Linked DNA regions of Homo sapiens. The protein of the gene in region 1 interacts with the protein of each later gene in a pairwise test. Each region holds a gene or a part of one and is shown on either strand. Other genes may lie near its edges.

What was found.
Region 2: the proteins of SH3GLB1 (region 1) and SPIN2B interact in binary tests that used the Homo sapiens proteins (3 or more experiments, as listed by UniProt).
Region 3: the proteins of SH3GLB1 (region 1) and FASTKD2 interact in binary tests that used the Homo sapiens proteins (3 or more experiments, as listed by UniProt).
Region 4: the proteins of SH3GLB1 (region 1) and SDF4 interact in binary tests that used the Homo sapiens proteins (3 or more experiments, as listed by UniProt).

The regions. Positions count from the first base shown.
Region 1 is NC_000001.11:86,734,846-86,742,776, forward strand, and holds part of SH3GLB1 (endophilin-B1), read left to right. Parts: intron 1-233; coding exon 234-334; intron 335-7,362; coding exon 7,363-7,591; intron 7,592-7,931. UniProt on the Homo sapiens protein: May be required for normal outer mitochondrial membrane dynamics. Required for coatomer-mediated retrograde transport in certain cells. May recruit other proteins to membranes with high curvature. May promote membrane fusion.
Region 2 is NC_000023.11:57,118,487-57,125,959, forward strand, and holds SPIN2B (spindlin-2B), read right to left. Parts: upstream 3,063-7,473; 5' UTR 2,752-3,062; exon of another isoform or gene 2,728-2,751; coding exon of another isoform or gene 2,595-2,727; intron 2,149-2,594; coding exon of another isoform or gene 2,144-2,148; coding exon 1,367-2,143; 3' UTR 1,196-1,366; downstream 1-1,195. UniProt on the Homo sapiens protein: Involved in the regulation of cell cycle progression, this activity is related to the inhibition of apoptosis following the removal of essential growth factors. Exhibits H3K4me3-binding activity.
Region 3 is NC_000002.12:206,782,222-206,790,152, reverse strand, and holds part of FASTKD2 (FAST kinase domain-containing protein 2, mitochondrial), read right to left. Parts: intron 6,920-7,931; exon of another isoform or gene 6,845-6,919; intron 3,421-6,844; coding exon 3,254-3,420; intron 2,217-3,253; coding exon 1,998-2,216; intron 1,335-1,997; coding exon 1,250-1,334; intron 1-1,249. UniProt on the Homo sapiens protein: Plays an important role in assembly of the mitochondrial large ribosomal subunit.
Region 4 is NC_000001.11:1,228,279-1,236,497, reverse strand, and holds the start of SDF4 (45 kDa calcium-binding protein isoform 2 precursor), read left to right. Parts: upstream 1-4,496; 5' UTR 4,497-4,606; exon of another isoform or gene 4,607-4,991; intron 4,992-7,551; 5' UTR 7,552-7,704; coding exon of another isoform or gene 7,705-7,725; coding exon 7,726-8,030; intron 8,031-8,219. Other genes in the region: B3GALT6 (beta-1,3-galactosyltransferase 6 precursor), read right to left, coding at 3,230-4,219. UniProt on the Homo sapiens protein: May regulate calcium-dependent activities in the endoplasmic reticulum lumen or post-ER compartment. Isoform 5 may be involved in the exocytosis of zymogens by pancreatic acini.

The DNA.
Region 1 (7,931 bases):
TTACATCTTATCACCGAGTTCTCCCACCCTCATTAAATATACATGTTGTTGTTTATTGGCTAAGCAGAGTTTGCTAGTGTACTATTCACGAAGGCCAATCTTAATAAGCCTTGTAGTAAAATGTTAGATACTGGTGAGTCTACCTCAGTACAATATTGTGGTCTGTCTCCCCCTTGCATTTGCCATTTAAGTTGACTATACAGCTAAGAACTAACTATAATTTTCCTTCACAGGCCCATCACCTTCGCTGTCTGAATGACTTTGTAGAAGCCCAGATGACTTACTATGCACAGTGTTACCAGTATATGTTGGACCTCCAGAAACAACTGGGAAGGTGATAATTTACTTTTCACATGTAAAGAGGAGAAATTCAGATTTTTGCTTATGAACTAATACTAAGGATGAAGATTAGAGCAATTAAAGGTTCTTACTAGCTTTCTTAGAAATAGTTTCTTTTTTTTAAGGAAAGTAATTATCAGTTTTCTGAGGTAACAGAATATTTTGAGCTTTTCTGGCACAGAGGCATGTTAACAGGGATGAGAAAAAGTGAATACCTTTTCAGTGCTGTAAGGTTAAAAGTGTTTCAAGTTCACTTTTCTCCTGCTACTGAATACTTTTTGCTATTGGTTGAGGAAGATATAATTAAATTGACAGTTACCCTTAAAGATAAACTAATTTATACTTATTCATTACTCATCTGTTTACTATATTGAAAAAAAGTTTTAGAATATTTCGTAAGACCTCATATCTACCGATGTGATTATTTTGAGTATGTTAATATACTTCAAAGCAAAATGACAGTATGTAAAACACAAAGCTCAATCACTCATTCATCACGTATTTATTGACTATCTGCCATGTGCCAAGCACTGTTACATATTGTGGGGTAATATCAGCAAACAAAACAGGCAAAGATGCTTGCCTTTATGGAGCTCACATTATAAGGTGACACTGAAAATAAAATAATGTTTAGGGCAAACATGGTCTCTGCTCTCACAACACTTAGCCTAGGTAGAAATACAAAGCAAGCCGTTGGTAGACAGGCCATGTGGTAGGCAGAAAAGCAGAAGGTGCCTGGTATTGTGAAGGCATCTAACTGTGACTGAGGTACATCTAGCAGAGTTTCCCAGGTGAAGTTATCTTGGTAGGAATAATCTAGATGAAGAAAGGGACAGGGATGAATATTCTAAGCAAGGAAGAATATGTTTATAAAAAAGCCAGAAGAAAGAGAGTAGGGAAAGTTCGGGGAACTGATAGTAGTCCATTCAGGCTGGAGCATAGTGTTCAAGAATGGAATGGTAGATGAATCTAGAGGAGTTAAGCAGGGTCATACCATGAATGGCTTTTAAAGTAAGTTGTTGTAAGGAGTTTGGAATTTATATATTGAGGAACCATTAAAGCAGGGGAGCGATATGTAGCATTTGAAGGATGAATATCAAAAAATCGTTTCAAGGAATAAGGTAAATAAAGTCACTTTGGTGTTTGTTTCTGCACATTAACACTTCAAAACTTGGCCTAGAATAAAATTGAGCACGTCCATGAAACCAATTTTGAACCTCAAAAATGAATGGTAGCCTAATCATTAGTTATTTTAATAGAATATACAGGAGCATTTACATAACTATATATTTGAGGTTTTATTAGTGGTGTTAATATCTCAAGGCAGAACAGCACTTTATCTTCACATCATTATAACTATTTTAAGCCCAAGAAGCCTTAGTACTTTTTTCCACTTTATCCTGAAACTCTGGAAGTGCGGCATAGGGGTTGCTTATACTCGCATTCTACTTAAAGCCACACTATGCTTAGGACTTGGCCATTTAAACAAAATCCAGTTGTTGCGTTATTACTGCTCTTTGAGATAAGCTCCAGCAATACAAAGTAAAACCAGTGCTACTATTCTAGAAAAGAAAGTCTAGCTTGTCTCTCCACCCTCAATTATATTATTGCTAATGACCAATGACATTGGAGGAAGTTTTATCTCTTTAATTTGTTGCAGGTTATGCTTTTTAAGATAATACATAGAAATATTCAAATATAGAACTTGACAAATCATCCAGCTTCACACTAACACATTCAAAAACTATTTATGAAGAAGAGAACCAGATTGTATTGTTAATAGTTGCAATAACAGTACCAACAGGTAGTAGAAGTAACTGAATAACAGCCATCACTTTGGTTGAGCTTAAGTTGTGCATAGGTGCTCTTCCAGACACCTCATGTGTATTATTAACTTTATAATCCTCACCACCAAATGAGGTAGGTACTATTATTATCCATATTTTAAAGATGAGAAAGCAGAAGTACTAGTCACAAGATTAGCAATTTTTTTAATAATTGGAAGGCTTTTGCATTTCAAGCTCCAGTGGCTTAATTGACATTTTTATAGAATGAGTAATTGCTATGATTTTTTAACGTATCAATAAAAGTTCTTAGAAGGTAAAAATGGCCTTTCAGTTCATTTTTTAAATCTTTAACTCTGCAAAATTGACATAGGTACACTTCAGTGGCTAATCAAAGGCTAAAATCATACTAGTAGATTTGGAAGTAAAATATGGTTAGAGAACTAAAAAAGCCATGTGTATATACATATTCATATAAATAGAGCTTTTTCTTATCTTCAGAAATGTATGTATTTAATCCCTACTGAAGAACCGAGTTCACTGAGGAAAGGATACTAGGACAGGTGGTCTTAATTTTAGAGAGGAAAAGCTATATTTAAAACTATTTCACCCTTTATCCATCAGAGAAACATTTGCTTTTCATTTTTAAAATGTACTGTTCCAGATGTGGGGGATATAGTATATAAATAAAATAATCAAAATTCCTGCCTTCCTGGAATCTACATTCTATATGGGGGCAGAAGGGAGCAGAAAAGCAATATGTATATAAATTATATAGTATATTAGAAGGTGAAAATGGTGTACCGGAAAATATAGCAGGAAACTACTTTGATGGGAGTAGAGAAAGACGTGAGAAAGCACACATGCAGGCATCTGAGAGAAGATGCTCCAGGTAGAGGGTGCAGCAAGTACAAAAACCCTGAGGGCATGACATAGCTGGTATGGTCAAGGAACAGCAAGGAGGGCTTGGCTAGAGACGAGTAGAGGAAACGGGGAGCCAAAACATATAGGGCTTCGACTTTGGTCTTTACTCAGAGATGAGGCGCCTTTGGAAATTTTGAGCTGAAGAGTGACATAATTTTAGGCTTTAACAGAATCATTCTGGCTGCCACGTTGAGGATAGGTGTTGGGTGGAAGCTGACTGATCTGTTTCAAACTTATTGCAATAATGTAGTCAGTAATTCAGTCAGAAGATGGCAGTGGCTTGGATCAGGGTAATTGTGGTAGGTAGGATGGAAGTGGTCAGGTCCTGTGGGCCTGTGGGTGTTGTTTGTTTTTTGTTTGTTTGTTTTGTTTTGTTTTGTTTTGTTTTTTTGAGACAGAGTCTTGCTCTGTTGCCCAGGCTGGAGTGCAGTGGCGCAATCTCGGCTCACTGCAAGCTCCTCCATCTGGGTTTATGCCATTCTCCTGCCTCAGCCACCCGAGTAGCGGGGACTACAGGCACCCACCACCACACCCAGCTAATTTTTTGTATTTTTAGTAGAGACAGGGTTTCACCGTGTTAGCCAGGATGGTCTCGATCTCCTGACCTTGTGATCTGCCCGCCTCGGCCTCCCAAAGTGCTGGGATTACAGGCGTGACTGTGGGTGTATTTTAGACTTAAAGCCAGAAGGATTTGCTTGACAGACTGTATGTATATTGGACACAAAGAGGTCAAGAATTATTGCAAGGTTTTGTTTTGTTTTGTTTTAGAGACAGAGTTTCACTCTTCCAGTCCAAGGTGGAGTACAATGGCGCAACTTCGGCTCACTGCAACCTCTGCCTCCCGGGTTCAAGAGATTCTCCTGCCTCAGCCTCCCAAGTAGCTAGGATTACAGGTGTGCGCCACCATGCCCAGCTAATTTTTTGCATTTTTAGTAGAAAAGGGGTTTCACCATGTTAGCCAGGCTGGTCTTGAACTCCTGGCCTCAGGCTATCTGCCCGCCTCAGCCTCTCAAAGTGCTGGGATTATAGGCGTGAGCCACCACGTCCATCTGCAAGTTTTTGACCTAAGTAACTGAAAGAATGGGGAGTTGTAGATAGTTAAAATGGGGAATGCCAGAGGAGGCAAAGATTTCAGGGATGGAGGTCTGGGAAGTATGTCAGTTATATTAGAAGCCCAGTTTTAAATATGTTAAGTTTGAGATGTCTCTTAAACATTTAAGTGGAGGTATCCAATTTTAGGATATGCAGGTCTGGACTTGGATTGGGGGCAGGGTGAATTAGATAATTAGAGAGTTGTCAGCATATCAAAGATATTTAAATCTGTGAGACTAGATAAACCCTCAAAGGAGTAAGTATAGAGAAAAGGAGAGGATCAAGGACTGATCCCTGAAGTACTCTAGCATAGAGAGTTGAGGAACGAGGCAAGGAAGATGATAACGAGTGAGGCAGTGAGGTAAAATGGAAACTAAGAGTATGGCCTGGAAGTCAAGTGAACATGTGTGAAAGTGGGAGAGAATGGTCACTGCCTAGGTCAAGTGAGAGGACTACGAATTGACCATTGGATTTAGGAACATTAAAGTCATTGCTAACCTTGACGAGTAGTTTTGGTGAAACAGTAGGCGCAAAGTAATGTTTGTAATATAAGAGACTCGGAGGAGAGGAATTGTGACCGTAAGAATACGTAAATCTTTCAAGGGGTTTTGGTGTAAAGGGGAACAGAGGAATGAGGCAGTAGTCGGAGGAGAAAGTGGGGTCTAGCAATTTTTTGCTTGTTTTTTAAGATAGGAGAAATAAGGGCATGTTTGTAAGCTGATGGGAATGATACACTAGGTGGAGAAAATATGATAATGTGGGAGGGAAAGGGAAGAATTGCTAGAGTGATACCCTAGAGAGGCAAAAAAGGATGAGATTTTGTGCACATATGGAGGAATTAGCATCAGGAGCATAGACAGCTCATTAAAGAGTTTCCTGGCCAGGCGCAGTGGCTCATGCCTGTAATCCCAGCACTTTGGGAGATCAAGGTGGGCAGATCACTTGAGCTCAGGAGTTTGAGATTAGCCTGGTCAATATGGTGAAACGCTGTCTCTACAAAAAAATACAAAAATTAACTGGGTGTGGAGGTGCATGTCTGTAGTCCCAGCTACTCAGGAAGCTGAGGCGAGAGAATTGCTTGCTTAAGCCCAGGAAGCAGAGGTTGCAGTGAGCCAAGATTGAACCACTGCACTACAGCCTGGGCAAAAGGAATGAACTCCTGTATCAAAAAAAAAAAAAGGAGTTCCTGATTGTTCTTTTTTCCTCTCAGTTAAAAGGAAGCAAGCTCATCAACTGAGTGTAATGGTTATGGGGAGAACTGCTGAAATTTTGAGGATGGGCAAGAGGGTATGAAATAGTCATCAGGGGAATGAAAGTGAAAGTGAATGGAGTAGAGAAATGTAGTATCATTGCCAGGTGGCATGTGGACCCACTTGAGGTTCCTAGTCATAAATTGAATGTAAAACAAAGCTTTTCTGTGTTTCTCCTGTTAAAGTAGATGCATGGATACTGAATAGGTAAATAGGTTTTTACCAAATCAGTACAATGAAGTGAGTGGCATAAGAAATGAGAGCATATCTAAGAGTTATTATAATAATTAACTATGGACATGAAGAAGGTGTTGGTAGGATCATAGACCCTGGTAGGCTTGTTGATGTGAGAGCACTTGAAAGAAAAAGGCGATGGTCAAAGAATGGGATAGTAGAAACTATTATTATTGGAAGGGTTGTGGTTACTGGAATTGGTAAGATCTAGATGTGACTGTGGGAATAGGTGGCTGAACTAGGATCAGGTATGAAGTCACTAGAAGAGAAGAGTTCGAGGATCTAAGAGGCTAAAGGGTTGGAAGAATTGTCCATTTGGATATTAAAGTCACCAAGAATTAAGTAAGAGATAATGTCAGTGAGCCAGGTGATAAAATCTTCTAGAAATGAAAGTAAGGGAATGAGGCATCTGTAGGTGATTGCAGTAAGAGATACTGGGTATCTCTTTTTTTAAAGAGTTGGGAATGATACAATAGATGGAGAAAATGTAATATGGGAAGGAAAGATAATATGATAAAATGTAATATGATAAAATATGATAATGTGGGAGGAAAAGATGATGTGCTATAGTTGAATAACATGAAGTTGAAGGATTGGCTAGAATTGTTTAGGGAAAAGAGTCTAAAAACAGTGATGAAGAACATAAGACTCCTCCATTGACCTCTAGGTTCAGTGATAAAAGAGGAGTATGGGAGATAAACGCTAGCACTGGAGGATGAAGGGAAGGTTTAGAGAAGAGGTTAAGGATACAGGGAATTTTGCTGATGACTGAAATGATTTCCAGATGGTATAGTGCTCGTGAAGAGAAAAGAGGACTTTTCTAGTTTAATGAATTTATTAAAACTTTGAATTTTTGTAGATCATTTTTTAGCTTAGAAATGGTTGAATTAGAATGATGTCAGACCAGCTATTTTGTACTGTTTTATATTTGGTATTATTGGGGAAACTAGCCTTAAAATAAACTGAAAATTCTAATTATCTTCAAATTATTTATGAGCACATTAATCACAAAAATCACTAATTTCTAATAGAAAATTTTTCTAAAAAATAGCACAAATGAACTTGTAAAATTTGTCCTATTCTACCATTGAGTCTTCAATTTCATTGAGATAATTAGCAGTCATATTATTTGAATGTCTACCTTCTCACTATGTGTATGTCCTTAAGGGAATAGTATCATTTCATCTTACGTCTTCTGCTTCTCATAGTCATGCTGAACATGTAGATACAAGTAAATAATACTTACATGTAAATGACAATAAATATTTTATTTGAATAGGAAAATGTGATTGGACCAGTTTATGAAAAAAAGGTTTAGTTATTCAAATATTTCTCAAAGAATTAAATTAAGAAAGCCTCATACTTGTAGTATCTAATATTTAAGTAGTTTTTCATCAATATTTTTATTTAGTAATTTATAAAGAAAAGATTAAGAAAACATTCTAATGGAAGTTTTTTGGGGAAAAAAGTATAGCCATTAATTTTAAGTTAATATTATAAGGACAGTTTTGAAACAGACTTTCAAGGATTTATATTTGAATACCACCTGAATTGTCTCTAGTATAATTGGCCCAAGAGGGAAAAGGAAGATAGATATACTTTGTCATTAACGTATTATTAATATCTATAAATCTTTTCCAATGTGAAGGTTGGTAGAAAGTAAACAGCGCCACCGAGTGGTGGTATTAAGGAGCTTTAGTCACTTGGAAATAAATAATTCGCTGCTTTCTTTTCAACAGTTTTCCATCCAATTATCTTAGTAACAACAATCAGACTTCTGTGACACCTGTACCATCAGTTTTACCAAATGCGATTGGTTCTTCTGCCATGGCTTCAACAAGTGGCCTAGTAATCACCTCTCCTTCCAACCTCAGTGACCTTAAGGAGTGTAGTGGCAGCAGAAAGGCCAGGGTTCTCTATGATTATGATGCAGCAAACAGTACTGAATTATCACTTCTGGCAGATGAGGTGAGTATTGTGGGTATGAGAAGGAAAATATATCACGAATTGACATACCTTCTAATATTATAACAAAATGCAAATTCCTCATTAGTTATTTGGAAATGGTTTCATAGATTACAGATAGTTATATTAACATAAAATTTTAATTAATATTCTTTAATAGAATATCATAGAAATATTTAAAACTTTTAACTGCCAAATAACTTGAAGATGTATAAAACTCCCTCCAATAAGATCCTTTATCTAGGCCAGACATGGTGGCTTACACCTGTAATCTCAGCACTTTTGGGAGGCCAAGGCAGTGGGATCACTTGAGGCCAGGAGTTCAAGACCAGCCTGGGCAACA
Region 2 (7,473 bases), on another chromosome or scaffold:
CTTTTTTGTGACATTATACAGCTGAATGAGTTAGTTATACCAAGTCACAACTCCCAGCCCAACTGCCCCATGGCATCTGCCTCACCTGGAAACAAAGAGCTGACCAGAATTCCATCACAGGTCTCTGTGAGCTGGGGTAGGCAAGACTGGCCAACAGGTGCCTGTGAGGGGTCTGCAGACACCAGCTTTGTGGGGAAGGTCTAACCAGAATGTGGATTCTTGGGACAGCAGGCCTCTTTTAGTGGATTATTTGTCGGAACCACCTGTGGTTTCAGGCAGCTGCTGAAAGAAGTGTGGACAGTCAGGAACTCCCCATAACCTGGAGAGAAACACTAGGCTCAATCTTCTGATGCCCCTCGTCTCTAGATAGAAAACAAACATTCCAGCAGAAGGAACCGGTGTGATGAGACTGCTGTACCTGAGTTCAGTAAGGTTCCATTTTTTTCTGGGTAAAGTACTTTCCAAATGCAAGATGGCACATCTCTTAAGTTCTGACCCACTAACCCATCCTCTACCAATATTGTTTATCTAGCGCAGGACAAATGTGAGGAGGCAGCCCGCAGCCCAGCACATGTGGGGAACCGTGTTAGTGTGTTCAGGCTGAGGGTTGGGGTTCTGCTGGGTAGGAGCGTCCTGAACTCCCTGAAACAGGAAAAGCCTTACGGGTATAAACTTTCCTCCTGATTAACCTTACTGAGTCATCCTTGTCAGAATGCCCTTCTAGGGAACCTCCAATGTATCTGGCATCTTTGACAGATGCCACTTCCTTTGTGCATAGAGCCAGGAAGAGCAATGTGGACACTACCAGAAGTCCAACATTTTCCTGGGCCTTCCGATCTCTCATGGGCCCCACACCCCACAACTCTTTTCCTGTATTCCCAATCCCTCTGTCAGTCTTTCTTCTTTGAACTCCTTCTTCCTCAGTGGCCCTCTTCTTCTAACCTCTCTAACACTCTAACCCACATAGCCTCTTCCATTGAGTATCCTTTATCCTCTCCACAGACCCTGTCAGGTTGATCCTTCTCCTCTTTACTCTGGACCTCTTCTAAGGTTCTTTGTGTTCCTCTCTACTCAATTTATTCTGTGTATTTTCCTCTAAGCCACAAGCTCTCTGATAGCTGTTCCTTCTTTTCATGCCCCATTCACCAAACACACCCGATCTTTTCAACAAGACAAAGGGCTTACACACAGCATGTCATGTACACACAAGTTTGTATTTTTTAGAGCAAAACAACAGTTAATGCTGGCAAAGATGTTTAGTTATCAGGGATTCCATAAGCTTTCAATACACTGAAAGGCAACATTTTTTGCATGTCTACAAATTATACATTTGTTTCCACACATGTGCCAAATTTTACCCTAACAGTTAGGACTTTTTCACCAAATCGTAGACATAGATATGGAAATCATCATCAAACTTGATGAAATACACAGAGGGTTTGGCTTCCACTTGGTGAATGACCATGCCGATCCTTTTGGAGCCATCTTCTTTGGTATATTCCACATGCTTACCTATTAGGCCATCTACAACTCCTCCTGGCTCCCTCTCTGTTGGAGGAGACTCACTGGATTCTGGCATGATGCGGAGGTCACCTTCCTTATAATCATCTAGAAGCTGGTACATGTACAAGACAGGATCTTTCTCATAGGTAATATAAAACCAGGCTTTCATGATAGGTGCTTGAGCTAAGACCATCCCCCTCCATTCATCCTTAGAACCATGCTCTCCCTCAAACATATGTTCCACTGCTTTGCCAATTATGGTATTTGCAAGGTTGGCATCACTAATGTGAGATGATGCCACCCTGTCAGAAAGAATTTTAAGAGACAAAACCCTTTCATCTCTGTGAAGTTCCAGTCCATAGACACAGTCAATTCCATCATATTTCACCAGATAAAGAGAGGGATTTATAGGCACCTGATCCAGAACGGTTCCTTTCCACTGCGTGATGGGCTCATCTCCTTCCTTCCATCCATGAGAAATTCTGCAGCCCACGATGTTCCTGCGGGGCTGGGATGAAGGTCGGCCTCTCTGCTTCTTTTGGGAGACTTTTTTCTTTGTCATGTTTGCAGACCCAGTGGCCCGTCCTGCAGCTGCCCTGGTTTGTTGCCCTTCGGCTTCCTGTGCGTTGGGGGTCTTCATGCCTGCTGGGGGAGGAGAGAGGATAGAGAGACACACCCAGTGTGCCACAAGGCAAACTTTTCCCTATAGCCATGTCTGGATGTAGTCTGCGCTAGTGCCTAAGTTTCCCCTAGGAGCCTGGAAGCAATGCTGGAAATCCTGGCTGCATGCCCGCAGTGCTCTCCCTCTTAAGTTCCTTTGGGCTGTGGGGAAGGGCTGGGGTGGTGCAGTAGAGCTGTCTGGGGTTAGGAACTCTGCAGAAGTGGCTGGGCCACCTCCTCCTAGCTCAGAGCCCACTGCCCTCCCGGAACCCCTTGCTACCACTGGCGTCCACTTCCAATCCCCTTGCAAAGAGGCCTTGACCGGCACCCACTGCCCTCCTTCCCTGAGCGTCCCAGCTGCTGTCCACAACACCCCCTGCCTACCCTAACCACTTCTCTGGTACCCACCGCCCTTGCTTCCCGGCGCTCACCTTCAAATCCTTGTCTGGCTCCCGTTCCTACCCCCTTTTCATGTTGCTCACCGCACTCCCCCACCCCACCCTTGCCTGGCGCCCAACTCCACCCCATGTCTCCTGCTGGATTCCTTCCCATCCCCCTCTCCATTCTGGCGCCCACTAATGGCCTTGCCCTGCCTGGCGTCCACCGCCGGGGATCGCGGGCCTCACGTGCCCAAATCGGACACCTCGCTGCTGCCTCCGCTACGAGCCTGTGGCGAAGGAGGGTCAGCAGGCGACCGGCCGAGTGAATGCTTGCAAGAGCGGGGAGGGTAGGATCCGTAGATGAGGAGCGTGTCTAGGAGGGCGGCGAGACAGGCAAAGAGGAAGGCAGCGGCGTCCCCACCGCTTGGCTCGCTAGCCCTCCGCCTCCCTGCTGGCGGTGGCGGCCCCTCAGCCACATCGGGATTCCACCAGTCCCTGCTGTCGCCGCGGCAGTCTCCTCCCTCTTTCCGTAGCGCAGCTTCCTGCCCAGAGAGAGGCCTCCTCTTCCTGTCAAACACCCGGCTCTCCTCTCCACCAGGCTCCCACGCCCACCACACAGCCTGTAGCCCCGGCGGAGCTATGGGCTCTGACTCCGCCTCTTTCCAAATCCGGAGTAGTTCGTGCCACAGTCGTCCTCGGAACCCTGTGGCCCCTTCCTCACCCGTTTCAGGGCCACTTGGTTCCCACCTCCACCTTCTTAGTCTGCCTGCCCTGCTTTCCATCTTCTTGGAATTCGCCTTGCTGCCGCCCCGCGCCCACCCCCGCGCCCACCCCTGCCCCTGCACCGTCCCATGCCCTTATGGATTTATTCTTTACACGTAAATATGTCTTTCCTCTTTTTGAAAGGATTTGGAGTTGGAACAGAGAAATTCACTATGGTAAGTCTGCCATTTTGACCCAGTCTCTACCTAATTTTTGCTGACTGATATTTCCTGGCATTTTTGTTTTTGTTTTCGAGGGATTTTTTTTTCCTTTTCTTTATTGCAAGATAATTGCATGTACAACGTGAACACTATCTACATTTTAGGAAATTAATATTAAGAGGAAAATCATCAACTGCAGTCCCATCTCCCATTTTTGAGGGCCTCACAGCAAAATATTAATGCTCATAGTTTTTTTTCCTTTTTCCTAAACTTTTGCAAAACTGGGATTTGTTTTTTATCTGCAATTCATGTCTATTAATTTTTCCAGGAAATTAGATGTTTTCTAATCGATTTTTTCATTCAACAAATATTTATTGAGCACCTGTTACATATCTTGCACTTGGTCCGTAAAACTCAATTTTAAAGTGATTTATAATTTGGCTTTTCTCCCAGTACTGGGCATTTGACATAATATTTCCACAATAACCAGTAATCAGATCTATGTATCGGAATAGAAAGCTTTGCAAAAAAATAACTTTATAAGAAATAATTAAAGTTATAGTTTTATAAATCAGTGGAGAAACGTTGGGTATTCTTTAAGGAATGTTGAAATAATTATTTAAATATTTTGAGAAAGGTTGTATACTAATGTTGTACCAGTATCAATATTTGATTTATTAAAAGGTAAAAAGCAGCAAAATAAAATTGAACAGAAAGCAAATGAACCAACCAAAAACTCTGTAAACAAAACAATGCTTAATGGTATCTTTCTTATTCAGATACTTATGGTATTTGAATGAGGGGATGAGTCGGATGTTAACAGAACAACTACACTTAATAAAATAACATCTACAAGGAAAAATAGAAGTAATAATAATCTCGATTCAACAGTCAAAGTATGAAAGAACATTAAAATATTACTTAATGTCATTGATCATGAAAAAGCTTCATATCTAGTGCTGATGCAAGTGAAAGTTTATACAATTTTTATGGAAAGCAATTTGCAGATATGTCATAGTTTCAGTGAGGGCTTTTTATTTTATTTTCATTTTTATTTTTTTAAATTATATTTTAAGTTCTAGGGTACATGTGCACAATGTGCAGGTTAGTTACATGTGTATACGTGTGCCATGTTGGTGTGCTGCACCCATTAACTCCTCATTTACATTAGGTATATCTCCTAATGCTATCCCTCTCCCCTACCCCCACCTCACAAGAGGCCCCATTGTGTGATGTTCCCCTTCCTGTGTCCATGTGTTCTCATTGTTCAATTCCCACCTATGAGTGAGAACATGCGGTGTTTGGTTTTTTGTCCTTGCGATAGTTTGCTGAGAATGATGGTTTCCAGCTTCATCCATGTCCCTACAAAGGACACGGACTCATCATTTTTTATGGCTGCATAGTATTCCATGGTGTATATGTGCCACATTTTCTTAATCCAGTCTATCATTGTTGGACATTTGGGTTGGTTCCAAGTCTTTGCTATTTTGAATAGTGCCGCAATAAACGTATGTGTGCATGTGTCTTTATAGCAGCATGACTTATAATCCTTTGGGTATATACCCAGTAATGGGATGGCTCGGTCAAATGGTATTTCTAATTCTAGAACCCTGAGGAATCGCCACGCTGACTTCCACAATGGTTCAACTAGTTTACAGTCCCACCAACAGTGTAAAAGTGTTCCTATTTCTCTACATCCTCTCCAGCACCTGTTGTTTCCTTACTTTTTAATGATCGCCATTCTAACAGGTGTGAGATGGTATCTCATTGTGGTTTTGATTTGCATTTCTCTGATGGCCAGTGATGAAGAGCATTTATTCATGTGTCTGTTGGCTGCATAAATGTCTTCTTTTGAGAAGTGTCTGTTCATATCCTTTGCCCACTTTTTGATGGGGTTGTTTGTTTTTTTCTTGTAAATTTGTTTGAGTTCATTGTAGATTCTGGATATTAGCCCTTTGTCAGGTGAGTAGATTGCAAAAACTTTCTCCCATTCTGTAGGTTGCCTGTTCACTCTGATGGTAGTTTCTTTTGCTGTGCAGAAGCTCTTTAGTTTAATTAGATCCCATTTGTCAATTTTGGCTTTTGTTGCCATTGCTTTTGGTGTTTTAGACATGAAGTCCTTTCCCATGCCTATGTCCTGAATGATATTGCCTAGGTTTTCTTCTAGGGTTTTTATGGTTTTAGGTCTAACGTTTAAGTCTTTAATCCATCTTGAATTAATTTTTGTATAAGGTGTAAGGAAGGGATCCAGTTTCAGCTTTCTACATATGGCTAGCCAGTTTTCCCAGCACCGTTTATTAAATAGGGAATCCTTTCCCCATTTCTTGTTTTTGTCAGGTTTGTCAAAGATCAGATAGTTGTAGATGTGTGGTGTTATTTCTGAGGGCTCTGTTCTGTTCCATTGGTCTATATCTCTGTTTTGGTACCAGTACCATGCTGTTTTGGTTAGTGTAGCCTTGTAGTATAGTTTGAAGTCAGGTAGCGTGATGCCTCCAGCTTTGTTCTTTTGGCTTAGGTTTGACTTGGCAATGCAGGCTCTTTTTTTGTTTCATATGAACTTTAAAGCAGTTTTTTCCAATTCTGTGAAGAATGTCATTGGTAGCTTAATGGGGAACGCATTGAATCTATAAATTACCTTGGGCAGTATGGCCATTTTCACGATATTGATTCTTCCTACCCATGAGCATGGAATGTTCTTCCATTTGTTTGTATCCTCTTTTATTTCCTTGTGCAGTGGTTTGTAGTTCTCCTTGAAGAGGCCCTTCACATCCCTTGTAAGTTGGATTCCTAGGTATTTTATTCTCTTTGAAGCAGTTGTGAATGAGAGTTCACTCATGATTTGGCTCCCTGTTTGTCTGTTATTGATGTATAAGAATGCTTGTGATTTTTGCACATTGATTTTGTATCCTGAGACTTGGCTGAAGTTGCTTATCAGCTTAAAGAGATTTTGGGCTGAGATGATGGGGTTTTCTAGATATACAATCATGTCATCTGCAAACAGGCATAATTTGACTTCCTCTTTTCCTAATTGAATACACTTCATTTCTTTCTCCTTCCTGATTGCCCTGGCCAGAACTTCCAACACTATGTTGAATAGAAGTGGTGAGAGAGGGCATCCCTGTCTTGTGCCAGTTTTCAACGGGAATGCTTCCAGTTTTTGCCCATTCAGTATGATATTGGCTGTGGGTTTGTCATAAATAGCTCTTATTATTTTGAGACACGTCCCATCAATACCTAATTTATTGAGAGTTTTTAGCACGAAGTGCTGTTGAATTTTGTCAGAGGCTTTTTCTGCATCTGTTGAGATAATCATGTGGTTTTTGTCTTCGGTTCTGTTTATGTGCTGGATTACGTGTATTGATTTGCATATGTTGAACCAGCCTTGCGTCCCAGGGATGAAGCTCAGTGAGGGCTTTTTTAAAGCTGTGGTTAACTGTTACTCCTAAGATTTCAACCCTGGAATTTCAATGAAAAGTAAGGGGTTGGGGGGTTACCAAGGTTCTGAACTCCAGATTCTGTATTCATGTATTTAACAAGCAGTCACAAGTTCTGCTGAGCATCAAAGTCTTTCAGTGGTTCCCTCTAGAATGGGTAAACTTTGCCAGTAGAAAAACATCCACCAAATGCCCTGTTTGCCTCTTGGACCTGTTCTCCTCCTATCTCAGCTAGGTAATTATTTCGTATTTCTCAGCTTTTAGATGCCATTGAGAGTGGATTTTCTTTTTTACTATATTTGTTCAGATTTAGTTAATTTGTTCAGATTTCAGGGAAAGTTGTTTTGAATTGTTTAGTCTCCTATTACTGAAATCTCAAACCCTATTTTTTATTATAAAATGCATGTGTTCATCATTAGGTTGTATACATTAAATAGGTACAGCTTTGTGTATGTAAATCATACCTCAGTAGTGGTTTGAAAAAGAAAAAAATGTGTTTAACTATTTGTAATGACTTCAAACTACAAAACACCTACATTTCCATCAGCAGTATATTGTATATGTTGGGGTATA
Region 3 (7,931 bases), on another chromosome or scaffold:
ATTTAAAAAACAGAAATAGGAGTTTAAATACAAGAAAGAAAACACCAAGAGAAAGGCAAGACTGTTAAAATAAAATCTGTAAATATAACGAAAATGTGGAAGGTGTAATTTGTTTTTTCATTGTTCCTGGCACTTTGGAAATACTAAGTTTACTGGGAGAAAAAAAGAAAAAAAAAAGACATTTATATCCTTACTGCCTTCACCTATACTCTGGCTGTTATAAGACAAATTTTATGTTTTTAAAGGAATGCTCACATTCTTCACTTCTCATGACTTTATGCTGAGAACAACTGTTATTTTATTATGCCAGAATAGCGGAGTACCCGAAAAAGAAAACTGATCTTGGAATGAGGTCAGAGAGAAAGCCTCTTCTGAGGGGAGATGGGTAGCACTAATAGGAAAGACAGCGGTTGAAAAGATGGCCAAGAAATAAGCTAGATGCATTCAGAAAGAGGTGAAAGTCACAGAACTGTGTGTGAATGAAGAGGGATGGGCAGATAAGAGCTTGGATCCCTACAGATTTTTTTGTATGTTTCTATCATATTTATGTGTGTGTGTGTGTCCAGTGGAGTTAACAGAAGATACAAGTTCCTTGGGGTCAGGATCCATGTAGCAGAGCTTTTACATAAAGGGTAACTGACCCACGGGTGTGTGCAATGATGGCATGATCTTATGCATCTACTGAAGAGGCAGGATGTTCTCTCATGGTATAGCATCATATTTCTCCCCAGAGACACTCTATTTGTAATGTGTGAGCCAAAGAAACAACTTAGGATTAGCTTCAATGTGCTCTAACCCATACAAATACAGTTTAATTAAAAAACTACGGTTTCTCTACCTCTGGAAAAGTCTTGGTGGTAGAGCAAAATATTTATTGGGTATTTGATTTTTGTAGAAGCCTCGAGTCTTTATTCTTTATGATCACTATTATATTATCTTGTCCAAAGTCTACACTGCATTGATAGTTTCAATTATATTAATATTGTTTTATTGAACTATAGCTTCAAAACCTAATTTTAAAAAAATGTCTGTCTCATTAAATGACCAATACTGTAGTCCATTGTATTCAACCATAACGTCCACATTTACACTTTCTAAGGAGTACATTGATGGATGACAAGTCTCTTGGTGTGCTGCAGGCTCCATACAAACATCAAGTCTTAGATTTACTACTGCTATTTAATATGAAGTCTTTTAGAATTAGGATTTTAATTCAGAAAGCCCAGCAAATGAAATATATGTAAGCAACCTTTGAATATCTGTAGCAGAAGTTGTATCCACATCAGAAAGTGGTAGCACTTGATTCCTGTTAGTGTCCATTCTGATTTCAAAATCTGAAAGGAAAGAATTGATATTAATTTTTCAAACATTCCTCCAAGTGACTTTCTTTTTCTTTTCTTTTCCTTTTTTTTTTTTTTTTTGAGATGTGGTCTCGCTCTGTCATCCAGGCTGGAGTGCAGTAGTGTGATCTCAGCTCACTGCAGCAACTTCCCAGGTTCAAGCAATCCTTTTACCCCACCCTGTTGAGTAGCTGGGACTACAGGGGCATGCCATCACGCCCATCTAAGTTTTGTATTTTTTTGGTAGAGACAGGATTTTACCATTTGGTCAGGCTGGTCTTGAACTCCTGAGCTCCAGTGATCCACCTGCCTCGGCCTCTCCACATGCTAGGATTACAGGCGTGTGCCACCGTGACCAGCCCCAAGTGATTTTCTGTTTCAAAATGTTTAATAGTACTACCAATAATGATAATAGCAGTAGCTAAAATATATTGAGAGCTAACCATGTGTCAGATACTAGTCTTGGGATTTTAGACACATAAAAATGTGTAGAATTTCATTTATTGGTCACAAGAATTTTATGAGGCAAGAATCAGGCCAGTTCCAGAGGCAATGCTGCACTACACTAAACTGCTGCCACAAATACCTATTTTTTTGGTCAGAAAAAAAGGAAAATAAATACAATAAAATGAAAGGAAATCATATAATGTCCCATACCAATATGATAATTGTGTGGCAAGTGCACATCCTTTGAGAAGTGTCCTTCACCTCCCAGAAGGCTGCTCAGCACCTCTGCCACCTTTGCATTTGTATGTGACGATGGCAGCTCCCGCGGCAGCTGTGGGAGTGACAAGGCTATGTCCCTCAGATAGACAGTATCATCAAGTTTTAGACAAGTATCCAAAGTATGCAGCTTGTAAGCATTCTTCATGTCATCTAAAAGATGAAAAAGAGAGTATATCATTAAGAAGAAATAAATGCAACATTAAAAAACTATATTAGTATATATTTAGTAATAGTTATAAAATAATAAATATATACATAAATGCACTTGTATTTCTAATTATCTCTTTCTTATCACAAGGACTCTCTCTTTGTCTCCCTGGTTTCCACAGGGTCTAAATCAAAGCCCTGCACTTGATAATGTTTTAAGGCTTCAAATATCTTTAGAGGTCATTTAGTCTAAACTCCTCAATTTATGGATAAGGAAATGCCCAGGAAAGTTAAAAAGCCTCGTAATTAAGGCAAAGTTGGAACTAGAATCCAGGTTTCCAAGGTTCAAGGCTGTTTCTCCATTATTACACTGCCTGAAAAACCAGCACGTGGTATTATTGACTGACTCTCTACAACTCAACTTTGGGATTTTATAACATTTATTTATTTATGTTTTAATTCTGAACTACTCTATTCTCAGACACATCGTCAAATTTTGTACATCTACCTGAATATTGCTTTGCCTTATTTAATACTAAAGACTAAAAGTCAACAGTTAATTTGGTTCCAAGAGTAAATGAACTAATTAATTTGGTGGCTATTTGGTTTCTTGATCTAACAGGTGTTCCCTCATCACAGGCCAGGAGTGACCAAGTGTTTACAGCTGCAAAAATTGACTTAGGTTGGCTTCAAATGTGATAAGTAAGGATTAGGAATTAAAACAGCTCTGATCAAAGCATAAAGAACAGCCTGAACAGTTAGCCTTTGTATAGAAGGATAGAGTATAAATAAAAGGAATAATGATGCATTCCTTATTTTTTTCTACATGTAGGACTTGTCATTAAAGAAGGGTCTGTAGGTTTGCTGCTTTGAAGCACTATCCTTTGACTTCACCATTATCAGCCCTTTCCACAGCAACACCTGCTCTGCAAATTTCAACTAACACTGCTCCAACTAAGACCCCATTCAGAGTCATATGGTAGCTAGTGGTAGTGCAGAATTGGTCACAATTGGTGACCAATTCTGCACTAACATCCTACCTGATGTCAGCAGCTCACTGATGATGTCTTTTTGCAGAAGCTGATTAAAAGGAGCCAGGGGAAAGTAATTCATCAAGCAAAATGAATATACTGCATCCAATAAGTTTTCAGAAGAAATAGTGTGAAGATAACCAGTCAGAGCACTAGCCATAACTTCCACGAACTGTCTGGGGAACAAAGAAAAGTCAGTTTCCCAACATATACAGAAGGCCAATATCTGTAACGATTCCAAAGAAAAGAGATAAGAAAATCAGCCTTGCAAGTAAGTATCCACACATCATTCTGGACAGTTGGTTATCTCATAATAAGTGTATACATTCAATAAATGTTGGCTATTGCTGTATGTCTTGCACGAGACAAACATTTTATAGACTTTAACTCATTTAACTCACACTAAAAAACTCCATGGGTATTACTATTATTCTCCTCATTTAAAAAAATGGGTAAACAGGCTTAGAGATTGAGTAACTTGTCTAAGAACACACAGACAAGGAAGTAGCAAAGGCAGTATTAGAACATAAGGTGTCAGGCTCCAGAACCTTTTCATAATTATGCTAGATTTTCTATAACGCCTGGACCACCACTACAGTTTTATAACCAACTAAAATTATCTAGTTATCAATACTATGGGTTAAAAGAACTGCAAGCCTAATCCTACCACCCACAGCTAATGGTACACAGTATAACGTGGTTAAGCACAAATGAAGACAGAAAAGATCAAAATCAGGGGCAGTCGCTTGCCCAGAGTGACACCACTAATAAATGGTAGATACCCTTTGAACACACGTCAATCTGATTCTCAGGGCATATGATACATATAGTTATATAAAAAAAGAAATACATGCAAAGTACTGTGATCTCGCAGAGGAAAGAAAATAAACAGAAGCTTTTGGGAGGAGAATTTGAATAAGTGGAAAAGATGGAATAAGGGAAGAAGATTTGAGCACAGCCCTGAAAGCACATGCTACTTGCCTGATAGTGAATAACTGGTGAGATGAAGGTACAGAGGAGTGTTTCTTAACAGCTGGGGCAAATATGCCTGGACACAAGCCCTTGTTAACAATGAGACTGAAATCAACTGAGAGGTCCATGGGTAGGGGAAGAAGTGTTGGGGAGGATGAAGGGCTGTGATAAGGCCAGGAAAACGATAGGAATTATGATGAAATGGGAGGAATATAACAGATCATATACGCAATAGCAAGGCAGCACGTCTGAAATTAGTACTGACTGCTTTTGGAACATGCAGTGGGATGCGGGGGCAGGGGATGGTGTGGACAAGGAAGTTGGGAGCCTGGGTAATGATCCCCCCTCTGGTCTTCTCTTGCCCCACTCCTCACCCTGTACCTCATGCTTCAGCAGCCCAAACTGTGTGCTGTTCCCTGCATGTGCTCTGCTGTTTCTTTCCTCCAGGTCTTGCATATAGAGGGCCTTTCACTTGGAATGTTCTTTCCTGCTTATCTTTCCATGGTAAAACCCCATCTCTCCATCTTTTAAGATCAGCTCAGATACCAACCCCTCCAGGCAACACTGCCTGATATCCCCTGACCCTCCTCTTCACCAGGCTGGCATCCTGATATATCCTTCCTCTATTTCCAAATATCCTAGATGATATGGTTTGGCTGTGTCCCCACCCAAATCTCATTTTGAATTGTAGCTCCTATAATTCCCTTGTGTTGTGAGGGACCCAGTGGTAGATAGCTGAATCATGGGGGTGGTTTCCCCCATACTCTTCTTGTGGTAGTCAATAAGTCTCACGAGATCTGATAGTTTTATAAGGGGAAACCCCTTTTGCTTGGCTGTCTCTCTTGTCTGCTGCCCTGTGAGATGTGCCTTTCATCTTCTGCCATGATTGTGGGGCCTCCCCAGCCATGTGGAACTGTGAGTCCATTAAACCTCTTTCTTTTGTAAAGTGCCCAGTCTCGGGTATGTCTTTATCAGCTGCGTGAAAACAGACTAATATGCTAGATCACTCGAATTTTCATGCTATATTTAACTGCCAATTTACATATCTACCTTACCCATTACACAGAATCCTCTGGCAAGAAGGACTGTCTTATTCATCTTTCTCCTAAGTGTCCAGGTGCTTGGCAAATGCTGACTAAACGAACAAATAAACTTTGATGAGGAAGACAGGAGGACGAGCTTGTCATTGGAAAACGATGAGTCAAGAAAAATAGCTGACTTCCAGAATTACTGAACTTGAGACACTTCTGGGATGTGCAGTGACCATATGCAACCCACAGAGACTCAGGTCTGGAGTTAAGGAGCACACTAATGACCACAGATGCAAATGTGGGATTATCCATAAGGTGGTAAATACAGATCAAGAAGAGAAGAAACCAAAGGACCAAAACAACAGAGCTTAAACGTTACATATTTGTTCCTTGGGTTCAAAGCCCAGCAAGATACTCTGGATTTAACACCCTCTCCCCGATGGGCCATCATAAATGAAATAATGATTAATGTATAGCATGTGGGTATACAATAAGCCAGAATTCCTACCACTCTCCTATCTAACCATCTCTTCTAGTCAACTCTCTTCCCAAATACTTTGAGTTATTCTGCTTCCAAAACCTTTGCTACTCCAGATAAGTTGCCATCTTCCTTTCTCCTTCCTCCATAAAGCACTTACTTGGTGCCTACCATGTACTGCCTTCCTCTGGATATACAACAGAGTTGTTCTCATAAATGGTCTAGGAAGAGCAGGGAATACAAACTTCTTTTTTTATAGCCTTCAAAATACCAAATCCAGGCAATTGTACATTCATGGGCATTCAGGAAATGGTGACTAATTAATCTTGCTATATCTGCCATATTGCCCCTACTTCTCCTTTGGAGAAATGTTGAGGTGGGAGGCTTAGAATTAGGTAAGGGTTTCTCAATCTCAGCACTACTAACATCCGGGGCTGGATAATTCCTTATTGTGAGGGGCTATCTTCTGCATAGTAGGATGTTAGCGGCACCCCTGGCCTCTGTCCACTAGAGGCCAGTAGCACAGACCTCCCTCCTGTTGTGGCAACTAAAAACCATCTCCATACCTTGCCAAATGTCCCCTGGGAGGCAAAATCATCCCTGTTTGAAAACCACTAGGTTAAATGAAAGCAGAATAGACAGACAAAAAGACAACATTCATGATTCTCCTCCTGTACTAATTCTACTACTGCCATTTTATTAAATGTCCTCCCAGCCTTTGTTACCTTTGTTATCCCCCCTCTATTTTCAATGTAACAATTTTGTTGGAACAAGTTATCTCTCAGGTTGCCTGGAGTCACCTGAAAAACTCTTACCCGCCCAGTACTTACTCTCTTAATCCCTCTGGGGCTGTTTCTGGAGTTTTAATTACCACTTAGCTTGATATTATTTGTCTAGAAAGTACAAGGCATCAATGGGAGCCAGCCTCAGAAGAAAATGAAGCCAGGGGAGTAAAGGAAGATTGAATTTGGGAGATATTTTTCGACCTTTATTAAATGTCTACTCTTTGGCAGGTCCTGTACTAAGTTCAGAAAAACAGGCAGCTGGGTCGGACTCCGGAGAGCTTACCAACTGAGGAGCAGAGACAGACTTACTGACACAACAAATGATGTGACACAACTTGTCATGTCTTACCCAGTCTCCGGTGCAGCCTGTTGTCAAGGCTGCACCGGAGACTGGGTAAGACATGACAAGCACAGGGACTCTGACGGTGACAATTAGGGAAGACACAGGAAATGCAGTATGAGCTGAGTCTGTCCATTCAGTGGACAGTACAGTGGGAAGCTGCTTTTTAGTTGGCCTGACACCACTTAATTGATTAACTGCCCCTAAGGGATGGGCATTTGACTCAAACTCAGTCAATCAGATGTTCTCTTTCAGAAATCTAAATCTGGAGGGAAAACTAAAAGGAAAGCAAGCAGCTGGAGTCAAGTCATTTGATGGCAAACAGATGGCCTGTGCATCTTGCCACTGAGACCTTCACAACTGCCCTAGTTTGTTCCCCCAAGGCCTCTGTGACCTACACTCTAATTTTTTTCAAATCTAAAAATTACTATGTGCTGGGCATTGTCATAAGAACTTGACATAGATTAACTCATTTAATTCTAATAACAACCCAATGAGATTAGACATAGCTCATCTCCATTTTAATAAGTGAATAAACTGAGGCACAGATAAGTAATTTGCCAAAAGTCAAGCAGCTAACAAATGGCAATGCTGAAACTCAAACCTAAGCAAGCTAGCTCTAGAGTCCATGCTTTTAATCACTGTTTTAACAAATGACATTTTATATGCTTTTCTGATTTTTAATGAACCCTGACTGATCCAAAGAGTAAGAAAAGATGTTCTGGGTAGAAAGCAGAGGTATGAAAGAAGCTGGCACATTTGAGGAATTACTGTATTTAATAGTAGGAATGCATGGCTGTGGTTAAAATGAAAAGAATAGAAAGCAGTAGCTTGAGACCAAATGAATAGTTAAGGTCAAAACTGAACTAGAAGAAGGTCCAGTTCTCACAGCTTCTCAGAAACACTGATTTAGCAAGGACATATAGACAAAAATACCTTTATGAAAAGTCCAGAAACCAATTAAGATATTGTCGTACTCCAGACAAGAACAAAACCAAGAAGAGTTGCACTGAAACAGGCAAGAAGAACATTTTACCCAGGTCAGCCCCTCCCCAAAGCCGGCACAGCTCAGCACCAAGGA
Region 4 (8,219 bases), about 86 Mb from region 1:
TCAGCTGGTCTCACAGTGCCACAGCTGGGGAGCCTGGGGCCGGTGGGGCCACAGGAGGGCCGTGACCCCCTTAGACCTGAGGACTCTGAGCTGGGACAGTCAGCCAGGGAGAGGGTGGAAGAGTCTGGGGTGACCCAGGCCGCGGGGGCAGCCCTGCTGCAGGCTGGACTGATGGAGGCCTGCCGGGAACAGGGTGTGTGCTGAGCCCTGCGGGGAGGAGATCTGGGCCCAGTCAGTGCTGGGCGTCTGTGATGCCACAAGGTTGCAGGAGCCCCTGCCTGCGTCTGCACCGAAGAGCGCCGGGCACAGGGAACTGGGCTGGCATCCTGGGGCTGCTGGACGGGGCGTCTTCCCTCGCAGCCCTGGAGGCCACGCTCCTGACTCTGGGTAGAGCCCTTCCTTGCCTGGTGGGGTGGGGGTGGAGGGTCCTCAATCCTTGGCCTGCAGAGGCATCGCCTGGGTGTCAGTCTCTAGCCACACAGTGGCTTTTTCCCAGGTCTTTTCTGGTAAGGACACCAGTTCCGTGGGAGTAAGGCCACCTCAGGACCTTGCCTTAACGCAATTCCACCTGCAGAGACCCGACTTCCAGACAAGGTCAGTTTGTAGCTGCTGGGTTAGGGCTTGGAATATCTTTTAGGGGGCACAGTTCAGTCCCGTAACAGGAGCCTTGACAGCCAGGATCCCAGCCAGACACAGGTGGGCAGGTGGGAACCTGGAGGCCTCAGGGGCGGGGGTGCCTCCGGATGCAGGTAGCACTTTGCATCTTGGGGGTGACCAACCAGGCCACAGGCCCGGCGGGTACCCAGGGCTGGCCCAGAGAGCTGGAGCCAACGTCAGGTGCCTGCATGCCAGCCTCAGGGGGCAGAGAGGCAGGACCATAGTCCCCAGGAAGAGGGCAGAAGGGGGTGCTCTCCTCCTGGGGGATCCTGAAGGGACCAGAGCCCATCCTCTTGGCTTGACCTGCATTCCCTGCCGGCCCTGTGCCTCCTGGGGGCTGTGTGCGTGTGGCTGCGCCGTGCCCGTCCAGCCCTGACACTGTCCCCTCCATGGTAGGTTCTCGGGGCCACTAGAGGAGAAACATCCGTGTGGCTGAGGAAGAGTTGGCTGTTTTGTATCCCAAGTTCCCACATGGAAATGAATTCGGTGACCCCCCATCTCCCGAGGGCCTCCTGGTTTGGCCCTGGTCTCCGGGAACCGAGTACCTGGGTGGGTGGGGAGCTGTACAAGCTAAGACCAGGGAAGGACGCCTGGGGGACGGATGCCACGGCCCGTGCACGGTCGATTGGAGCCGCAGGGCAGGGAGGATCTACAGGGCAAGTTCCAGGTGAGACCAGAGAGAGCTGCAGCTGCCCCGGCTCTGGAAGCCCCCAGCCCTCCCGAGGCCCAGCCTTCAGCCCACGTATCCTCTGAACCCGTTCACCACGGTACGGCTGGGGAGGGTCAGCCTGGGGCAGGCTTTGTTCTGATATGAAATTTAATGTCTTAGGCTGAAAAACACTAAATTTCCATTTTTTTGTAGGTCAGAAGTGGTTGCAAACTGGATTTTTAGACTCTTCCTGTTGGGGGTCTCGGACATTTGCTCTTTTCCACAGCGGCCAATTCTTCAGAGCCACAAAGAACTGGGCGACGCAGGCCAGAGGTGTGGGAGTCCAGCCCTTGGTTCGAATCCCGCTCTCCACTGTCCATGGGGTTCTCAGCAAGCCCTCTGGCCTCTCCAAGCACACGCAGGGTTCCTCAAGCAATTCCAAACTCCAGAGAAGACATCCCAGGTAAAATCGGATGGCAGGGACCTGGGACACCGCTGTGACGGGCAGCCCCTGGGCTCGAGTCCACAACTCCCACGGGAGGGCAGGGCCCCATCCTGCTCACACCGGGGTCCCCAGCCCTCGATCCTCACGAGTCCTCGTCCAAGAACAAACTGTGCACACACGGGCGGTCAGTCCTGGATTCAAGGTGGCCCATCGGAGCTCGAACTCAACGGCCTGACCTAGGGACGCCTCCAGTCCCACCCCTACCTTTTGGAGGTGGGAGAATCACCGTGCAGGTCACTGACCCACTGACCACAGATCACCACTCTCTCCCGCCCCCGTTTCTTCCTCCTGAGACCACTGCTGCCTTCAAACGCAAGTAACCCAAACCTGCTCCCAAACCCATGGCAAGACTGACCCGGAGCCTAACCCAGCCCTGCCCCGAGCCTGACCCTGATGCTCGAGACTAGACCCCAGACTGGACCCGGTCCCAAAGTGGGACAACAAAGACCACAGCGGGGACCACCCAGGTCCCCCAGAGAGAAAACCCGCGTCGGACTCCAGGGAGCTCATGGTAACCCCTTGTCCTGGGGCAGCTTCATTTTACTTTGGCAAGGACCGCAGTGTTCGCTTTTCTCATTAAACGAGGGGCTTTCAAGGATGTGTTAAAGTACGTGAGAGACGGGCCTGGTGCCGGCTGGTCCTGTTTTCTTAAGGCGGAAGTTGGGGAACCGCGTCAGCACTCCGGGGTTCGGATTCCTGGAACCTGGGGCAGAGTCTGAAATAAAGCAGCACCGGCCCTGTGTGGCGCGGACCCATGGGAAGCCTTGAAAGGAAAGTCTCTTCAGAAAGAAACAATGGGTTCAGTGACTTGTACACTGAAAAGATAGATGGCCAGTTTTAAAGTTCTCCTGCGTTTAAACACGGGCAGCAGCGGGGTTGACGGTACAGGCACCAAGTTCTGACATAAAAGTCTTTCCTTAAATCATGTAAAAAAACCGAGACGTGCGCACTGCCAACTTACACTCATCGACACAAACTTACAATATTTATAAATAAGTCGCAAGCAAACACTGAGTTACATTTACCACGAAGTCACTGGACAGAGACCAAAATCCCATGAAAGCGGATTGATGTGAAACCACGTTAGATCTGAGACGCAGACGTGAGAAACGCCACTGATAAGAGACACGGAAGATCGGAGCCCAGCCCCGTGAGCCGGTCGGGGACAGCACGGGGGTCAGCGTGCGGCCGGGCCCGGCTCAGGCTCGCTGAGGTCCAGGAACGGGCACCTCCACCTGGACACGGCGCGCTGCCCCGGCAACCCCCAGGGGTCTCCCAAACGCAGACCGGGACGCAGCGACCACAAGCGTGGCTGCGGGACGGGGGCCTTGGGGCCCGGGCGTAGTGCGCCCGCTCGGCACCTGCCCCAAGGCGCCGCCGGGTGAAGCAGGTGTCCCGGAGGGCCGGGCCGCGGCGGCTCAGGGGATGCCCTCCCTTCTCTGGCAGCACTGCGAGGGCGGCGCGGACCAGTCGTACACGTAGGACAGGCGCAGCTGCACCTCGCGCTTGCACAGGCGGCCCTCGCGCGCCAGCGTCGCGTGCTTCTCCAGCATGTCCTCCAGGCTCTGCTTGTGCGTCACCAGGTACTGGTTGCTGCAGCCGCGGGACCGGTATTCGGTGTCGAAGCGCGGGTCGTGCTCCCGCTGGACGTCCACCGGCGCCAGCCAGGCGCCCAGAGACACGTCCTCGCTGTGCCAGGCGCGCAGGTAGTCGCGGCTGAGGCGCAGGTAGTGCACCAGGTCGGCCGAGAGCACGTAGCCGCCGCCCAGCGCGTAGGGCAGGTAGTAGTCGCAGAGTTGCCAGGCGGCCTCGCGCCAGCGCCCCCCCGGCTTGACGCGGCCGCGGCCCGAGAAGAAGCCCCAGTAGAGGCGGCGGCGGCGCGCGGGCTCGCGGGCGCGCAGCTCGGCCAGCAGCGCGTCCAGCCGCGCGAAGGAGTCGTCGTCCGCCTTGAGCACGAACTCGAAGGCCACGTGCTCGTCCAGCCAGGCCAGCATGGCCAGCACCTTGGCCGTGAGGTTTTCGTAGGCGTCGCGCAGCGCGGGCAGCAGCAGCAGGTCCCCGTGCCGCGCCTGCTCCCGCTCCAGGGCGCGCCGCTCCTCGGCGCCCAGGCCGGCCGTGCCCACGGCAAAGCGCGCCCACACGTCGCCCGGGGCCCCGCGCCGCGCAAGCCACGTGCTGCGGATCACGCTGCGGCGCTCGGCGGCGCGGGGCGCGCTGGCCACCAGCACTGCCAGGAAGGCGGCGGCGCGCGCGGGCGCGGGGGGAGGCGGGCTGCGGCCCGACATCGCCCTGGGGTCCCCGGGCTCGGCCGCGCAGCGCGCCAGGTAGAGCAGCGCCGCCCCGCACAGCGCCAGCGTGCCCAGGCCTAGCGCCGCCCGCCGCCGCCACGCCCGCCGCAGCAGCTTCATGGCGCCCGCGCCGGGCCGGCGGCCCAGGCCGGACTCGCGAGTGCGCAGGCGCCGCCGGCTCGGGGCGGTGCGCGTGCGCACGGCGCTCCTGGGAGCGCGCCGGGGCCTTCCGCAGACGCCGAGCCCCGGGGCGCTCGGAGGCCGGCGGCCAATCGGCGGCCGTCACGTGGCCTCGGGCACCCTTGTCATTGGTCAACCTCGGAGCGGCCCCGCGACCGCTTCCGCCCGGAGGAGAGATGGTGGCGCCGGCGTCCCCTCCGTGAGGTCGCGCCCGTTCGCACCGCCCCCGCCCGCAAGAAAGATGGCAGTGGCCTGATCCGGGCCCGTTGGCGGCGTCACTGACGCTTCGCTCCGGTCCTCGGATCCCGAGCGCGGGGAGGCAGACCGGTGAGTGAGGGGCCCGGGACGGCCGCTGCAGGCCGCGGGGCCAAGTGTACGCCGGCCGGACGGCGAGGGCGGGTCTGGAGGCCGCCGCCGCCTCCCGCCTTGGGCTGGGGCATCGTCCGTCCGCTCGGCCTTGAGCCCTGGCGAGACTCCGCCGCCACCGGGGCTCCCGGGGTTCCCGGGGGCAGGGACAGGCCGACGACGCTGGCCTCCCCGGCCGCCGGCACGTCTGGTCTCCTACTGGCCAAAACCTACGAATGCCACCGGGAAACGGAGGCCCAAGGGGTCTGGTTGGACTCGCGTTTATCGGCGAGGCGACCTTGGACAAGCTGCCCCGCTTCCCTGCGCCTGCGCTTCCGCTTCTGAACCGCGTGGACCCTCATCCCCAGTTAGTAGGATTTGGAGATGTGAAGTCGGCTGTGTGGAGCCCTTGATGTCTGGCTCAGAGGCGGTGTTATGAACCCTGTTGAGCTTTTAGAATCTAACCGTGTGTGTTGTTAACTGCCAGAAATAGCCTCGTTCCACCAGAGCTGAAGCCCAGGGATGGCAAAGAAATAGCGTCTCTGCCTAAGCTGTTTCCCACGTCCGTTTTGCAAGGGTGTGTTGATTCCTTGCTGGGAACTGAGCTGCTAGGGGATGGCGAAGTCGAAACCCCATTCCGGTGGGACCGGCCCGCTCCGCTGTGCTGCGAACCTGGCACACCGTGATGAATAGATACTCTGAAGCCAGGAGAGGAAGCGCCACTTGATGGACTCCTGATATTTATAGTTACTTTTGGGTTACTTTTTATTCCCCCTTTTTCGAGACAGGGTCTTATCTTTTTGTTTTTGTTTTTTAAAGAGACGCAGTCTCACTGTGTTGCCCAGGCTGGTCTCACGATCCTCCTGCCTCAAGTAAACCGTGTAACTCATCAAGATATGTAGAATCAAGAACTAGCTTTATTTTCTCTAGGAACAAAGTACAGTCTCTTTGCACACAGCGTGTGTTTTACGACTGTAGTTAGTGGAGTCAGCACCAGGAGGAGGTGTCTTGGTTCTTATCCAGGACTCTCCCCTGGTCAGGCGATCTGGGACGACAGGAATAGAATTATGCCACCACTAGGGAAGGGAAAAGCCCTCAGCCATGTTCAGAAAATCAGGCCGGGTGCATGGCTCACGCCTATAGTCCCAGCACTTTGGGAGGCCGAGGCAGGAGGATCACTTCAGGTCAGGAGTTAGAGACCAGCCTGGCCAACATGGCAAAACCCCATCTCTACTAAAAATACAGATTAGTGGAGAGTGGAGGTGGGTGCCTGTAATCCCAGCTAACTGGGAGGCCGAGGCAGGAGAATCACTTGAACCTGGGAGGTGGAGGTTGCAGTGAGCCGAGACTGCACCACTGCACTCCAGCCTGGGCGACAGAGTGAGACTCTGTCTCAGAAAAAAAAAAAAAATCAGACATGAGCCCCTCACCCAGGGTTTCCTTCCTTGGGGGAACTCAGGCTTGTACCCCTCTTGGTTTGTGGCAGACTGCACTGACTTCAGGACCACTTTCATGGCGGCCCCACTGGTGTTTCTCGATACCTGGAGGCAGCATTTTTTCGTTTAATATTACCCAGGGTAGCATTCGTTGAGCGCCTACTGTGTGCAGGCAGAGTGGCAGGTGCCAGAACAGTGAAGCTGAATAAGACGGCCACAGAACAGGAGTCTCAGTCCATGTGTGTTGAGGGAACAGCTGTGACATGGCGGGGCCTCAGCGGCACCCGAAAGGACCCGCAGGTGTTTGCCGGAGGGGCAGACTGTGAAAGGAGTAGGCTCGTGGGTGAGAAGGACCCCGAGTTCCCTTTGGGATACATGAGGCATGAGGCCCTGTGAGCCCCTGCTTCCCACCAGGACTGGCCACGCCTCGGACGGCAGGACAGACTTCTGGGCTCCTCGGCCTTGGCGTTCGCTCGCGAGTGTGGGCAAGGGCACATGTGTGTAATACGTGCATGCGTGAGTGTGGATGTGTGTGTGCACATCTGTGTGTGGGGGTTGTGTGTTTGTTTGCTGGGACCAGGCCCTGACGCCCTCTGCACTTAGGGTTGGCTGTCTTCGCAAAGCCTGGTCAGTCGGGGGGAGAGGGGGAGCCTCCTGTTTCTTAGTGAGAAGCTGAGGCCGGGGAGGCCACATGACTTAGCTAAGGTCATAGATCTCAAGAATGTTCAAGTCAGGGTCTGGAGAGTGACCCTAACCCCATGGGTCAGTGGCATGATGCCAGGAGGGACAGAGCCGGGCCCCACAGGAAAGCTGTGCTGCAGGTGTTGGGCGATGGGGACAGGTTAGCCCCTGGAGGTGCTGACAGCTCGAGAGAGAGATGGAAAGACGGAGAGACAGGGCTGAAAACTCAGTGTCTGTAAAAAAAAGACCGGGCACAGTGGCTCACGCCTGTAATCCCAGCACGTTGGGAGACTGAGGCAAGAGGATCGCTTGAAGCCAGGAGTTTGAGACCAGCCTGAGCAATACAGCGAGACCCGTCTCTACAAAGAGTAAAATAAAAATAAATTACTGGGCGTGGGGGTGCACGCCTGTGGTCGCAGCTGCTCCGGTGGCTGAGGCGAGAGCATCACCTGAGCCCAGAGCATCACCTGAGCCCAGGAGTTCGTGGTCACGGTGAGCTGTGGTCACCGCTGTACTCCAGCCTGGGTGACAGAGCAAGACCCTGTTTCTAAAAATAAAGAAAAAAACACCACGTGTGGTCCGGAGAAAACAAATGCCACGTGTGGTCCAGAGAAAACAAATGCCACGTGTGGCCCGGAGAAAACAATGCCACGTGTGGTCTGGAGAAGGCAGTGCCACGTGTGGTCTGGAGAAGGCGATGCCACATGTCTGGATCCTGTGAATCGAGGATATGTTTCATGTTGCAGGATAGACGTGCTTGGGGAAGTCTTTGCTGAGTCTTGCTAATGATGTGTCTGTGTCTCTCTGCAGACTGTGAGCTGCTTGTCCCCATCCTGCGGCCGTCCTGGGGACACAGAGCCCTCCGTGGTGCCCGGGGATTGGATTGGAGCCAGGACCTCACTTCCTCCTCTGCCCCTGCCCCTGCCCCTCCCAGCACCTGGCCCACACCCTGCAGCCCGCCCCATGGTCTGGCCCTGGGTGGCGATGGCGTCCAGGTGGGGTCCCCTCATTGGCCTGGCTCCGTGCTGCCTCTGGCTCCTGGGGGCAGTCCTTCTGATGGACGCGTCTGCACGGCCTGCCAACCACTCGTCCACTCGAGAGAGAGTAGCCAACAGGGAGGAGAATGAGATCCTGCCCCCAGACCACCTGAACGGGGTGAAGCTGGAGATGGACGGGCACCTCAATCGCGGCTTCCACCAGGAGGTCTTCCTAGGCAAGGACCTGGGTGGCTTTGATGAGGACGCGGAGCCGCGGCGGAGCCGGAGGAAGCTGATGGTCATCTTTTCCAAGTAGGTGCCGCCATGTGCCCAGACTGGGGGGCTGTCCGCGTGCGCTCGCCTGTGTGTTCCTATCCTGGCTTTGCGCGGTGGGGGGCGCCGGGCCCTGTGTCGGGACCTGCCGGGCTGGGAAGACGTGCCGGTGATGAGCGCCACTTCCAGCCTGCTGTGTTTGCGCGGAGGCCTGCGCTGGCAGCCCAG